2 separate regions of the Homo sapiens genome follow, and region 1 is linked to region 2. The links come from fine-mapping of genetic effects on gene expression. Tissue or cell type: whole blood. Region 2 holds a variant in brackets; the other region holds the start of a gene. All regions are shown on one strand. Distances are between the middles of the regions.

Region 1 (2,623 bases), 33 kb before region 2:
AATGCTCTACTTGTGTTCACTTCAGAAAATGTCCCCTAAACTCTTTTTTTTTAAGAGATGGGATCTCACTTTGTCACCCAGGCTCCAGTGAGGTGGCACAGTCATAGCTCACTATGGCCTCGAACTCCTGGGCTCAAGTGATCCTCCTGCCTCAGCCTCCCAAGTAGCTGGGACTACAGGTGGGTGCCACCACCCCTAGCTCATTGAAAAAGTTTAGAAGTTTGAACTTGTACAGATAGCTGAGTTTCTTGGGTGTGACCTATTTAAACCAGGTCATTTTTAAATGCTCTTTCAAAGTCTGATTTTATTAATAAATGAAATCATCCCATCATAAGGGAAACAATGAGAAATCTATGAAGGGAAAACATATCCATTAATATGAGGCACCCTGAAAATTAAACTGTTTGGTGGAAGGAACAACCATCACTTTCAATTTCTTTTTAAAGCAACTTCCAGAGAATAAGCTATGTTAAGTAAAATCAAAACAGGAAAAGCCACATCTAGGTGGATTTCAAACGAAATGATACCTCTCTGAAAAAAAAGCAAAAACAAAACCTTAATGCCTGGTGAAGTTTGAGGGGGGTCTCATAATCACAGAGCCATCAGGAAGCGGCTAGAAACAATGAAGCAGGGTTTCAAAATGACTGGTACAGGATGTACCCATAGAAAGAAATGTTGCGCGCACTGGTGGAGCTGCCAAAGTTACTACTGCAAAGTACCCTGAACTTTTAAAGCGTGGCTTGGGGTCACTCTGACCACACTCTTTCCAATCTGGTCGCCTTGCAAACACGCTAGGATAATTGGCGGGAGGGGGGAGGGGAGAGATGCGCGGACCAGTGAGCTGGCGGGGGTTGGGGGAGAAGCCGGCGGAGCTCTCGGGTCGCTAGCAACATTAAGGTTTCGCTTTCGTCCAAGGGCGGCGGGGGTGGGGGGGTAAGGGGGGCAACGAGATGGCAATGAACTTCCTCCCCCGAGAGACCCTGGCCTCGCGTCCGTGGGCGGCCAGATGCCTTCCCCTCCGCGGCCAGGCGGGGCAGGGGCGTGCTGCGGGAGGGGGCGGCCGCGACGCCCCGAGAGGAGCCAGCAGGGTGGCCAGGACGAAGCCCCAGGAAGCGCCTTACCTGTGCCGCGGCGCGCTCAGAGCCCGGGGCCGGGCCGGGACGCGCAGGTGCTTGGGGGCATCCTGGGGACGGCCTGGGCGGGCGGGGAGTCCATCGCACCCGGCTGGCTGCGCTCTTCCCGCCGCGGGGGGACGGGGAGGGGGCTCCCCTCGGCTCGGCGCCCGCCTCTTCTCCACCCAGCTGAGGACACAGCAGGTCCCGCGGCGGCGGCAGCAACAGGCACCGGCGGACGGTGGCGGCACCAGGAGCAGCAGCCGAAGAGGAGGAGGAGGAGGAGGAGGAAGAAGAGGAGGAGAAGGAGGAGGTGTCTGCGCGCGGCTCTGGTTTCCTCCTCCCAGCCTGGGCGAGCGCGCTGGAGGCGAGGGGAAGACAGGAGCCGGGATCTCCCCACTCGGTCCCCGGGGAGCTGGGAGGGGGACTCGGTGTCCTCCTCCTCCCCACTGCGCCGTGTGACTGTGCCTGGGCAGCACGGCCCGGACGGGCGAGTCACACGCGAGCAACAGCTGCTGCACTGCGGGTCCGCCGCGGCCTCCCTCCCCTCCTTGCCACCCCCCGCCCCCAAGCCCGCGGGCCATCCTCAGCCAGTGTCTGTGGGGGGAATAGGGGGGAAGTACTCGGGCCGCCGCCCCATCCAGACCCCTGCGCAGGATCTGGGCACAGCGTTTCCCTGGGGAGCCGGGGGCGCGGGGCCCCGCGCGTGATGCAGGCCCTCGTGGCGGGATGTACAGTCGCACACCCTGTCCTTGGCGGCCTATTTATAGCAGGTGGCACTGCCCGCCGCTTGCTCGGCCTGAGTGGCTCTCAGCAGGTGGCACTGCCTGCCCGCTCTCCGCGCTCCCGAAGGCGCCTCGCCTCATCTGCACCCTCCTCTTCTCCCTCCGAAACAGACGTGGTGGAAACTGCACACAACATGGGGGGCGGGGGCCGGGGGCGACCAAGCCACCTTGCTCTCCCCCGCCTTACCCCTTCTCCCCGTCCTTGGAGGATGGCAAGAGGTGAACTGAGGCACGGATGCCCTATGGGGCGCTGGCATGCGAGGCAGGAAAATCAGGGACTCTGGGAAACAACGAAGGCGAAGTGCCCTCCCGGGATTAAACACCAGGAAACTCCATTTCTAACCAATTGCGGGAGTGACGCAGAGCCTGGATTAGGCGCTTTTTCCTGCCCCGCGAGCCCGGCACACGCGCAGGAACACACACCACACGCACACGCACACCCCAGTGTGCATGCCCCGATCAGGTCTGGGGACATTCCCAGCGGTGATGTAGAGTGCAAGGAAAGACGCGGAGATGTGAAAAGCGGGACAGAGCTCGCTCCCTAAGACTAGGGGATGGCAGTGTGCAAAAAACAGGCGAAGCTCCCAGATCCCTATCCCACCAGGCACAGAGGCGCAACGTCACTCGCAGGGTGGGGAGAGGGATCTGAGAAAAGTAAGAAGCATCACATCCTCTCCAGAGAAGAGTCCGCAGGGAGGGGAGAGCCGGGTGCTCGGAGGAGGCAGT
Region 2 (2,762 bases):
TGTTTCAAATGGTACAGAAAAATCTCAAATACATAACATATATGGTGAGAGAGCAAATATTGCAAAATGTTAGCAATTGCTCAGTCTGGATTGGGGTCAACAAACTGTGGTTCATGTAGTTTTACTGGAACACAGCCCTGCCCATTCCTTTATACATATGGCTGCTTTCTTACTACATTAGCAGAGCTGAGTAGTGGTGACAGAAATCACATGTCTGCAAATCCTAAAATATTTACTATCTGGCTCTTTACATACAAAGTTTGGTCTAAGTGAAGGGTGTGTGGGTATTCACTGCATTCTTATTCCAACATTTCTGTAGGTTTGAAACTGTTCAAAATAAAAAAGTTGGACAAAACTAAGGACATCTCCCCTGACAAAAATATATTTTTAAAGCAGCACATACTTGAAAAGGATTTTCCATTTTAGTTGATTAGAAGGCCATGAAATTCTATGAATAATTGAAATTTATGACATAAAGCATATTAATAATATTTAAGCTTTTCAGGAAAGAAGGAAATCTTAGTGAAGACATTATTGCTAGCCTGGTGCAGTGGCTCACGCCTGTAATCCCAACACTTTGGGAGGCTGAGGCTGGCAGATCACTTGAGGCCAGGAGTTCGAGCCCAGCCTGACCGACATGATGAAACCTTGTCTCTACTAAAAAAAAAAAAAAAACACCAAAAAATTAGCTGGGTGTGGTGGTGCATATCTGTAATCTCAGCTACTCAGGAGGCTGAGGCACAAGAATCGCTTGAACCCAGGAGGCAGAGGTTGCAGTGAGCTAAGATTCCACCATTGCACTCCAGCCTGGGCAACAGAGAGAGATGTCTTAAAAAAAAAACAAAAAACAAAACAAAAAAAACTTTATTGCTGTTGTACGTTAGGTATGCTGGTGCCTTGCTTAAGCCGTGACCACATATCCATCTACTGACATAGCGCTTAATGTCCCATTTAATAAATGGAAGCAATGTTTCAATGCATATAATAAAAGGACAAATTTTCAAGGTTTTTTTCACTAATTTATAAGCTAATATTTGAATTTAAGTCCACTCAATAAGCCATGTGAAAAATGTTAATACCATAAAGCCTTAAACATTTAAATAGTGTTATCATTACAAAGGAAAGCTTTCCGAAGTATAAGATATATTTTCATCAGATAATGAAAAGGAAAGGACAAGATACAGAAAAAACAGATCCTTAAGTTGGACTGTTTAGTTGGACTGTCCATTTCTTTTTAAAAGAATGAAACATAGAAATAAGA[A/G]AACACTAAATAAGCAAGAATTATAAAGAAATGTTTACAAAAAACTATATGCAATATAGCAGCAAAGAGCTTACTATCTAATGCACACGAAAACAAGATTCTTGCATAATATTACAATAAAATATTGGTAATCCAGAATTCTTAGAAAATGAGCTTTTATATGTTCACTTAATAGTTGAGTTTTTGCACTTTAAGCACAAAAAGGTTTTGAATGGGAATCCATAGTGAAAATATATTACATAGTCCCATGACTTCTTAAATATCTCTTTATTGAACATCTTGACATTTGAGAGCCATAAGCATGACTGTGTTGGAGTGGAGCTGTATTCTGGGCTCACTTGGGTGTAGAATGCTATTTCCCTCATGATAAACTCATGGAGTGGTGAGCTTTCTAAGTCCTTGTGTCCACGTTTTATAGTTTTGTTTTGTTTTAATATTTCCTTTCTTGCTATCAGCAGTCACTTCTCCTTGCCTAAGAAAAGTTTGTTATACTTCCCCATTCCTCTAATTTGCTACATTTAATCTGCTACTAGCTTGGCAATTTAAGATGCTCAGGAATTTTCATCTGCTTTTATTTGCACAAGTTTGATTCACGAGGCTGGAAAAACTCTTCTATGAGCAAAGCTTTGGTTTGTCTATGTTGTCACAATTACCTAGATGGGTGCTGTTTACTACAGCGGCCATTAGACACATGTGGCTACTAAGAACTTGAAATGTGGCAAGCGCCACTGAGAAACTAAATTTTTAATTTTATGAAGTTCAGTTAATTGAGTTCAAGTTTTAAAACTGATACTTGATTCAGTTATTAGAAAACAAGTATGTTTGGAATAATCTGGGTATTAAAATCTACTTTGTCTAATCTAAATTTTATTAACTCTACAGATCAAGTATTTCTGATAAAAATGGAGCATTCAAATTGAGATATGCCGTAAGTGTAAAATTACTGAATCAATTTTGAGGACTTTTTTCCAGAGGAAAAAAAAAGAATGTAAAACATCTCATTAATAATATTTATACTGATTATATGTTGTAATAATTTTTGGATATACTAGGTTAAGTAAAATACATTATTGAAATTAATTTCACCTGTTTCTTTTTACGCTTTTAAAAGGTGACAAGTAGAAAATCAAAATTGCATCTGTGGATTGCATTTTAGTTCTGTCAGACAGCACTGACTTAATTCACCTTTCACAAAAACTTTTCCTGATTTTCAACTGTATTCTGAATAGGGAAATGCTGGTTAACGGCATGTTGGATAGGCATGCAGTATCACACTTACACACACTAAGGACAGCACTGAGCTTGTTAAGGTGCAAAATGTTAAGTTGTTACAGAGTGACCAACTCAAACACTTTTTTGAGGTCACAGAAACTTGAACCTGAAGCTACCAGCCCATCAGTTCTTTGGCAGCAAGGACTCTCTCTGATGAGGCTCTCTGTGCCCCCTCCAGAACCCAGCACAGACCTGTCTACAATGGGTACTCAAAGATATTTCTTGAATG

The links. PIP is the estimated chance that this variant, and not a neighbour inherited with it, causes the effect.
Region 1: it holds the start of TBC1D1, and the variant in region 2 is fine-mapped to the expression of TBC1D1 in whole blood (TOPMed, PIP above 0.99).

Annotation. Positions count from the first base shown.
Region 1 is chr4:37,889,847-37,892,469 of GRCh38, reverse strand. TBC1D1 (TBC1 domain family member 1) reads right to left here and starts at 1,386. Exons shown (of 22, transcript NM_001396959.1): 1 at 1,122-1,386. RefSeq lists an enhancer at 1-78 and silencers at 858-1,357, 1,678-1,867.
Region 2 is chr4:37,856,427-37,859,188 of GRCh38, reverse strand. The region is part of intron 13 of PGM2 (phosphoglucomutase 2); the gene reads right to left. Among named protein-coding and RNA genes, the nearest start is that of PGM2, 31 kb to the right of the region's middle. The variant A/G (reference allele first, on the strand shown) is at 1,262.